Linked DNA regions of Homo sapiens. The protein of the gene in region 2 purifies or fractionates together with the protein of the main gene of each other region. This does not show direct contact. Each region holds a gene or a part of one and is shown on either strand. Other genes may lie near its edges.

Region 1 (4,946 bases), on a different chromosome or scaffold from region 2:
CAAAAGAGGTACCCATTGGCGCTCAACCGAATTGCTGCTCAGGAGGTCCCCATTGAGATCAAGCCAGTAAACCCATCCCCCCTGAGCCAGCTGCAGAGAATGGAGCCCAAACAGATGTTCTGGGTGCGAGCCCGGGGCTATATTGGTAAGAGTACCCCATGGATGGGAGGAAACCACTCTCCAAGGGGTCTACCACTCATTTGCTGTGTGGCCTTGGGCACATGAGTTCCCTTCTCTGGGCCTGTTTCCTTATCTGCATGATGGGGAAGTTGGCTTAGCTTCTCACCTGGGCCCTCTCAGCCCTTTGCATGGGGAGAAGGTGGAGATGACTATAATCCCGACACAAGGCCTTTCTGAGGAAGGCAAAAGGCACCTCGCTGGGGTTGTTGTCCAGCTTTGCTGCTAACTATAAAGTATCTTTGTGCAAATTGGAAGAAGACACCCCTTTTGGGGCCTAGAGTGGGAGACTTGGGTGGTGAAGACTGAATTTCAGTCCCTGCTCACCCCTGCCCTCCCCAAGTCGCCATCTCACTTCTCCCCTATCACACACACACACTGTAGGCCAAGCGCTCTTGTGCAGCAACCAGTCTGCACACCCATGCACGGGAGTCCCTTTTCCCCCTACCTCCGTGCAGGTCCTGAGCTGGAAAGCCCAGGAGCCCAGGGCTGATGGGGACCTGTTGCAGGCGAGGGCGACATGAAGATGCACTGCTGCGTGGCCGCCTATATCTCCGACTATGCCTTCTTGGGCACTGCACTGCTGCCTCACCAGTGGCAGCACAAGGTGCACTTCATGGTCTCACTGGACCATTCCATGTGGTTCCACGCCCCCTTCCGAGCTGACCACTGGATGCTCTATGAATGCGAGAGCCCCTGGGCCGGTGAGTGTGGGGCCGTGTGGGACAAGGGCACTGACCTTGAGTGGCAGGAGCCTGCTTTCTTGGGTGATGCTGATTTCCCGACTTCCTGTGTGGCGCTGCACAGGTCACTTCCTTTCCTTCCCTCCCAGGCTTTGGCATCTTCATCTTCAAAATGAGAGGGTGAGGCCGGGACACCTGCTCTGCTCTAAATTTCTAGAATGTGCTGGAAATGTGATTCACCTTCTCCCAGGGACCCAGTTCTAGTCCCAAAACCAGTTCAGATTCTTTGTATTACAATAGGCAAATCATATCTTCCATCTGAACCTCAGTTTCCTCATCTAAACAAAGAGGGTTACATTACAGCAGTGGTATCCAAACCCGCAGTCCATCAGACTGCCATTTGGGGATGCCTTTTCAAAATAGATTCTGATTCCACCCTCAAGATTCTCACTCAGTAGGTCTTGGATAAGGTCCAGGAAACTGTATTTTTAAGTTCTCTAAGTGATTCTGATTAACCTGATTGGGATCGGGGCATTCAGTGGTCCCTAAGGGCCTGCTTGGACCTTCCTTGCAGGGGAGAGAAACAAGACTCGTTCATCAATGTCTAGCTTCAGAACCCTGACCTCCTTTCCAAGGGAGTACATTTCAAATGAAGAAAAGCTTTGCTTGATAAACCAAGGACAAAACTCAAGGATTCTTTATACTCAGATAAGGGGTATTCTCAAGTACCAATAGCATCACAATCCAAGATTGATAACCTTGAAGTGAGGACATGGGTTCAGATTTGGCTTCATCATGGGGCCAAATTCCTGACCCTCTCTGGATTTCAGTCCTGGTCTGGAAAACTGGACAACACATAACTGCTTCATTTGGCTACTGTGAGAACTGAGTGAGCTCTGCTATGTGTAAGGGAAACCAGCAATCATCCTCATAAACATCAAACTTGGGCCCAAAGCCAGCAAGGGAGAAAGAGTCTCCAGATGGGGAGGGAAGAGGCCAGACCTCATGGCCTCAAGTCCTCTCTTCTGAGTCCTTTCTTCCCCTTGGTGGTGGTAGTGGGGATATTTTTCATGAATTACCACTTGGAGGACCTGGCTTGATTTATTATACAGGGAGCCGATAGTTTTCCTAACACAAGTGGTCAGAGGTACAGCAGTTCTGCTTGGCCGAGCTGTTGAAGGAGACTGTTCTCAGAGCTCCTCCCTCTGTGATCTTTTTGAGGAAGCGAGGAGAGGTGTGAAAGTGCTTTTAAACTGTCAACTGGGGTTCCTGTGGGAGGAGTTACCCCTCAATGACGGTCCATAATAAGCTCATGAAGGGGCATTTGGAGCAGCCACGACACTCAGTGCACCCTTGTGTGGGGCAGCCCTGCCCTGGGCCAGACCCTTTGCAAGAAGTCCACTTGGAGGTTGGGCATGGTGATGTGCGCCTGTAATCCCAGCTGCTCAGGAGGCTGAGGCGGGAGGATCCCTTGAACCCAGGCGCTTGAGACCAGCCTGGCAACTTAGTGAGACTCTGTTTCAGGAAAAAAAAAAAAAGTGTATTTGGCTGTTCTGAAGCAGGCCATCATCACCCTTCACCTCACCCACAGGTGGCTCTCGGGGGCTGGTCCATGGGCGGCTGTGGCGTCAGGATGGAGTCCTAGCTGTGACCTGTGCCCAGGAGGGCGTGATCCGAGTGAAGCCCCAGGTCTCAGAGAGCAAGCTGTAGCCAGAGGTACCAGCTTCGCCTGGGGCTTCAAGAACCTCCCATCTATCCCCATTCCTGAGACAGGAGTTACAGTCCCTTTTGGCCCTCACATCCAATAAAGAGACTGATACCACTGGAGTGGCTGGCTTTTAATTCCCCTGGGCCAGACCTGCAGCCTTGCCTTCATCCCTTAACTCCAGGACTCCAGGGGCAGAGTCCCTGGCCTTCAGCCAAGAGGCCTTGCCAGCTTGGGGGCCCACCAACAAGGGAACATTGCCCCAACCTGTGCCACAGCCCCCCGGCTGTTTATAGGCTGGAGAGGCTGTGTCAGACTTCCCTGTACTACACAAGGGCAACCCCAGCCAAAGCTCACCCTGAGCCTAGCTCAACAGAAGTTTCCTTGATCTGCTTCACATTCTCTTTTGGAACTTCTAGGGGCTCCCAGCACCCTCTGCAGCCTCCCAGCTATTCTGTTCTCATCAGGTCCTTCCCCTGCCTTCTGGGGCAACCCCTCTCCTCACAGTGGCCTTAAATCTAGGCAAGGGTTAGTCCAGCACCTCCTTGATGAGCAATTCTTTGAGACTGGGGGGTGGTGTGGGGGTAAGGCCTGCCTCCTGCAGGGCTTGGAGCCGAGCCTCTGATTGACGTTTGTCCAGGCCCAGGCGCCAGGAGAGCCGGACATGGGCCTCCAGAAAGGGTGCCAGCAAAGGGTGGAGGCTCTTGTCCCCAAGCAGCTGCAGGGCCTTCTCACAGCATGCCCGGGCCTCTCCAGGGTCTTCCAGCTCCTGGTGGCACACGGCCAGCCCAGCCAGGGTCAGCAGGGGGCGGTCTGGGCCAGAGGGGGTGCCCAGCTGGGCTTGCAGCTGCCAGGCATTGGCCCAGAGTGCCAGAGCCTCACGATAGAGGCCAGTACAGGTGAGGCTCTGTGCCCGCCGCAGCTCCGGCAGCACGAAGAAGTCCTGCAGGTCCGGGGCATGGCGCAGCTCAGGCACTGCCTGCAGGTGACCCAAAAACTGCTCAAAGGCCCGGCTACGGCGGGCAATGGTCTCTGCAGTAAAATTCCGGCGCAGCCGCTTACGGGGGAAGGAGATGGCAGCCATTGGGCCCCGGAATTGCCGCTGCAGGTTTCGGTGCAGCCGCTCAAAGTCCGAGTAACGGCGAGAGATCTGGGCTGGCTGGCAATCTGGCGGTCCTGGGCCGATCACGGCGAGGGTGTAGAGCTGCAGGGAGGGTGGGTGTCAGGGCAAATGCAAGTTGTCCACGGGCCCGTTCCCTCCCCATCCTTCCCCATCCCCCACACTCCCAGCTGTACCTCCCCACCTCTTCCTTTCACCCCTGGGACAGCACCCAGGAGGGCGGGAGCTGCTGCGCAGTGGCGGGGAAGCCCAGTCCCATCTTACCTGAGGTTTGTCTGAAATGACCCAGGCCCAAGGCAGCAAGAAGAGAGAAAGACAGAGATGAGCTTCAGTGCCCGGGGCTGCTGCCCCTTTTTTTGTACTCCCTTCCCATAGAGCATTAGTTCTTCTGACAGCCCCCTCTGGAAAACCAGACATAAGCTGAAACCCCAGCCAATCTCTTGGGGCTCCTTTAGGACCAGCTTGGAGCTTGTTCCACTTTGGACACCTGGCCTCCACATCCCTGGTCAGGCTTTTCCAAACTAGACCCAGAGGACAGGTCTGTAGATAGCCACAACTGCCATAACTGTGAAAAGTATACTGGCCTAGGACTCAAGTTCTAACCCCAGGTCAGCTACTCCTTCTCTGTGTGACCCAGGCAAGGGAGTCCCCCTCTGGGTCCACTTCTGTTTCTAGTGAAGGAAGTGCTCGGTCAAGTCAGTGTTTGTCCAAAAATGAGACATGTACAAGTATTGGTACCTGAGGTTTTTAGGTGGTGTGCACTAGAGTAAATATCACTGTATCAGGAGGTTGGTCCCCTTTTAATTATTATTTTTTGAGACAGGGTCTCACTGTTGGCCAGGTTGGAGTACACTGGTACAATCATAGCTTACTGCAGCTTCAACCTCCTGGGCTGAAGCATTCCTCCTGCCTCAGCCTCCCAAGTAGCTAGGACTATAGGCATGCACCACCACACTCAGCTATTTAAAAAAATTTTTTTTTTTTTTTTTGTATGGAGATGAGGGGGGGTCTCACTATGTTGCTAGGGCTGGCCTTGAACTCCTGGCCTTGAACAATCTTCCTAGCTAGGCTTCCCAAAGTGCTAAGATTACAGGCATGAGCACCACACCCAGCCTAATTGTTTTTTAATCTTTCTGACTACAAATTGAGAAGCTCTCAGTTTGGTTTTGTTGGGGTTTTTTTATTTTTTTATTTTTTTTGAGACGGAGTCTCGCTCTGTTGCCCAGGCTGGAGTGCTGGAGTACAGTGGCACGATCTCGGC
Region 2 (4,957 bases):
GGATACTCTACAACAAGAATGAAGAAACTACAACAACATGAATGAATCTTACCACAAAACATTGAGCCAGACACAAGGAGTACATAGTGCATGATTCCATTTATATAAAGTAAACAAGAAAAAATGTACTGTTCAAAATCAGAGTGATAGCTATGAAGGATGCAAGGAAGGTGTTGAAAATTTTGGTCATGTTCTGTTTAATGATGTAAGTTTTGGTTACCTGGCTATGTTCAGTTTGTAAAAATTCAACAAGCTGTATACTTTTTATTTGTAATACTTTTCTCTTTTTTTTTTTGTAACAGGGTCTCAACCTGTTGCTCAAGCTGAGTGCTGTTGCATGATCACAGCTCAGTGCAGCCTCAACTTTCTGGGCTCAAGCAATCCTCCCACGTCAGCCTTCCAAGTAGCTGGGACTACAGACACACACCACCATGCCCAGCTAATTTTTGATTATTTATAGAGATGGAGGGGTCTCACTATGTCATCCAGGCTGGTCTCAAACTCCTGGACTCAAGCAATCTTCCCACCTCAGCTTCCCAAATGCTGGGTGTACAGGCGTGAGCCACTGCACCCAGCCTCTGATTTATAACACTTTTTTCTCTGTACACTGGTACCTCATAAAGTTTTAGACATTTCTCTAAAATGTGCTAAAACTTCTGTTCTAAATAACAAATTTAACACATTACTCATTCAAAACTAAAACAAGCAAAAATGGATTTAAGTCTTTGGAAAATTTAACATTAACAATAATATCGTTGGCCTACTTTCATACATCTATCCAAGTACACAATTTTTAGATGAATTCCCAATAACTTCTTTCTCATGACCTGATATTGGTTAGTAGCAAGCACAGTCAATTTTCCATTAATTGTGCTTTGTGAAAGACTAAGTACTAAGCCACCATTTTAGGATATAATCCCAAATATTTCTCTTCTAAACATAAAAAAAAATGTTATTTTGGTTTCAGCTTTTTACGCTCTTTTGTTATGGGTTGGCAAAAATATAAAAAAACAAAATCAAAGAAATCTTTAAAGCAGGCTATAAAGTTCGCTCCAAGAGGTTCTGTCATCATCTTAAGGGCTTTCTTCCACTCTAGTTTTCCCAGTAAGGAACTCTATCAGAAATGAAATAATAAAGGAAGAAGAGTTTTCAATGAAGAAATGAATATCTTAAAGAGACTGTTGCCTAGGTGTCAGGACCAAGCAAAACATGGACCGGGAGTTAACCTGATAAAAAAAAGATTAAAGATGGACAATATCCTGGCTTAAGTGCCTCTAGAAGTTCAAAATAGTTCCCTAAAACAAACACAAATTAAGAATTATAATTCAAATAATGAACACAGAAAAAGAGAAGATTAGAGGTAAAACATCGTAGGGTCAAACATAACATTTATTATACAAAACACCAAATGTGTTTTGACACATATATTCTTGATGTTAATGCAAGTCAAGTTATCCTAACCCACATATCAAGTTTTATTTTTATTTTACCTAAAGAATGACTACAAGTTGTATTTTTAAAGTTGATAGTGATATTTAAGTCGGTTCTCATTCGGCATATTATATCTGTTTCTATACTTAACAATGACAATTTTTCATTCATCTTCAGCAGAGGAACCTTTTTGTTATCAAACGTAACCTTTTTGTTATTCTAAACAACAGTATCACATTTAAATTACATCTTGAAAATAAGGGACAATTTCTCTAAACAGTCTCCCTACTGACCAACAGAATTTATTATAATTAAAAGAGCTTCCATAATACTTTCAAAATGAAGAAATAGCATAGGGAGACTATAACTATACTGACCAATACCAGTTAATAGCCAAAATAGGCATGATTCGGGTAGTTCTAAAACTATAAACACAGATGATCCTGAATTTAAAAAAAAAAACTATAAATCGGCTGGGCGCTGTGGCTCATGCCTGTAATCCCAGCACTTTGGGAGGCCGAAGCAGGCAGATCACGAGGTCAGGAGATCGAGACCATCCTAGCCAACATGGTGAAACCCCGGCTCTACTAAAAATACAAAAATTAGCTGGACATGGTGGCATATGCCTGTGATGCCAGCTGCTCGGGAGGCTGAGGCAGGAGAATCACCTGAAATGGGGAGTCAGAGGTTGCAGTGAGCCGGGATTGCGCCACTGCACTCCAGCCTGGTGACAGAGAGAGACTCCGTCTCAAAGAACAAAACAAAACTATAAATCAAATTTTCACATACCCACAACACAAACATGCAGTTAGTATATTCCCCCTATAAATTACTGTATAATTCTGATTATGAAGGATTCTAGAATGATGGAAAAATGGTATGAAATTATGATTCCACATTCTTTTATAACTGTAGATGAAACAAATATTGACAGTTGCACAACAGCATCTTCCACATACTTTACATCAAGGAAAATTTTGTTGTGACTAATAAGCTTTTCTAAGGATTAATAGAAATCTATAAAAACAAAACAAACAAAAAAACACCACTCTACCAAAAAATATCAAAACCTGAATCTGATCAAACCTCTAGATCCAATTAACAGGTTATCAAAAATATAGAGGACAGAGGAACATGTTAAATAATACCACAGAGATGCAATCTGCAAAACTCAGACTCTGAGAAACTAAATAAAGCAACCTAGTTTCTTCAACAAATAAGTCATAAGGGGAAAAAAGGAGATAGAGGATGGAAATTATAAATTAAAAGACTTTAGAGACAAAACCAATTACAACATGTCAATTTTATTAGGTTTTTGAGTCTATAAACTGATGTAAAAAATGAAGTTACTTATGAGACAACAAGAAATTTGAAAACCAGATGTTTGCTGATATGAAGAAATATGTTAACTACATTTAGGTTAAGAATCCATCTTTTAGAGACAAATACTGAAATATTTATGGGCTTTGCTTCACAAAAATATGAGACAGGGAAATGCTTCCAACACTTCTCCAGTAAGTATGATATTTGCTCTAAACTTTTTGCAGATACTCTTTATCAGGTTAAGGATATGTCTATTTCCAATTAAATTTTTATCTTATATAGATGTTAGACATTTATCAAGATGATCTCATTCCTCCTTTGGTCTTTTAATGTGGTAAATTACATAATATTAGATTTACTACTGTTAAACCAGTTATATCACAGAGATGTAGTTTGCAAAAATCTGCAAAAACTCAATGGGTCAGTGATGTAATGACTATAAAAGAAAATAAAATCTTTCTAGTGTTGGTGAGAGCATACCTGAAAAACTATTTCTAAACTTCACTGACAAATCAAAGAACACCTACAGGAAATGTCTACAGGGTAAATAGAATCTGACACTTTTCCTAATGGGGAAGGAATGTAGTATAATGGAAATAACATAAACACTGGGTTCACATCCTGACTCTGCGACTAGTTCTATTAACCTTGGGCCAATAGTCTCCCGGCCTGTTCCACATATCCCTATATGCTGCAGGATTTCTGAAAGGATAGGGAGATCAACTGAGAAACAGTTCAGTAGTTTGTTCTAGGTATTAAACTACTAAATGGCAGAGTCTAGGCTTAAATCCAGGATTTCTTACTCTAAGTCCACGATCTTTCCAATACTGTATACCATATCTCAGTAGATTCCATTTCATATCAACATAATCCAAATGAGTGAAGTTAACTCAGTTTTTAATGTCTAGTAATAACTTATAACATAATTCTCAAAGTATAGTCCAGGAACCCTAGTGGTTCTTGAGACCCTTTCAGGAGGTCTGCAAGGTCTCACATGCATAGTTTTCCAGAAGCTAGTGAAAAGTGATGTCCATAGCAGACTGAATACAGAAGCATATATGTGAATCCGGCTATTTTCTGTTAAGCTAGACATTAAAGACATTTGTAAAAATGTAAAATTTTCTACTTTTTTCAGAAAATAGTTATTTTTCATAAAACATTATTTGTATTAAGATATAATGGGTTTATTACTGCTATTTTTAAAAAATAATAAATATTATTACATTTTATTTTAATTTCAAATACAATAAATGTCAATGAATAAAACTCACATTAACAAAAGCCCTTTGGGGACCAAAGGATTGTAAAGGGGTCATGACATCAAAATGTTTAAAAATCACCAGCTTCGGACATATCTAATCCTTTACTAGATTTAACTACAAATAAGTATATAAAATTCAGAATAAATAAGGTGTTCAAAATGCTATGAACACCTTCATTGATTAAAAAATTATGTGGGGAAAGTCAGGAAGTGGGAAAACAATATGGTGTTATAGAAAGGACAATACTTTTATATACAGAAATCCTGGGTTCAAATGTACTAGACATTTCCCTGAGTAAGTTACTGAACCCTCTTAAGCTTCAACCTCTTTGCCTATAAAATAGAGACACTGGCAAACTGCCTTACCTTCTTCTCCAGGTTAAGAGAGTCAAGTGAGATAATGACTATAAAACGCTATTTCAATACATTATATTGAATATTGACAATGAAAAAAAAAACCACTACATCACTACAAACATAAAATCATAGCTATTATTAAAGTTTACCTCTGTGACAGACAGATGGACACTTATGGTTTCTACATCCTAAAGTCCGTCCACAGTTTTGATCACAAGGTGGACAGTTTCCAGGGCAACACTGAAGAGAAAGCAATATATAAAGAACAGGTAATTCAAAAACCCATGAATAATAGGCATGTCATTACTAGTTACAGAACTTATGGAAAGCAAAAGATACACTTTTCACTAAAAGAAGTATTCAAGAATATCAACATTCTTCTGGTAAGTAAACATACTTCACTAAGAACTTATGATGACCTAATTTAACAAATCAAGCTAAATTTTCCTGACTTTCAGTTAATTATTCTATGATTCAAAACATTTCCATCAGATAATTTCATTCCTTTATCTATGCAGAGACTAACAACATTAACCAAAGGAATGTCAATTCAGGAAAACAATTAGTCTGGTTTTTAAAAAAAAT

What was found. The genes of interacting proteins can lie anywhere in the genome.
Region 1: the proteins of NFXL1 (region 2) and SNX21 purify together in Homo sapiens (co-immunoprecipitation; one large-scale study listed by IntAct). This does not show direct contact.

The regions. Positions count from the first base shown.
Region 1 is NC_000020.11:45,839,462-45,844,407, reverse strand, and holds the end of SNX21 (sorting nexin-21), read right to left. Parts: intron 4,929-4,946; exon of another isoform or gene 4,103-4,928; coding exon of another isoform or gene 3,950-4,102; intron 3,770-3,949; coding exon 3,095-3,769; 3' UTR 2,571-3,094; coding exon of another isoform or gene 2,452-2,570; 3' UTR 2,376-2,451; coding exon of another isoform or gene 2,365-2,375; 3' UTR 1,132-2,364; downstream 1-1,131. Other genes in the region: ACOT8 (acyl-coenzyme A thioesterase 8), read left to right, coding at 1-145, 687-881, 2,452-2,570. UniProt on the Homo sapiens protein: Binds to membranes enriched in phosphatidylinositol 3-phosphate (PtdIns(P3)) and phosphatidylinositol 4,5-bisphosphate. May be involved in several stages of intracellular trafficking.
Region 2 is NC_000004.12:47,886,092-47,891,048, forward strand, and holds part of NFXL1 (NF-X1-type zinc finger protein NFXL1), read right to left. Parts: intron 4,613-4,957; coding exon 4,522-4,612; intron 1-4,521.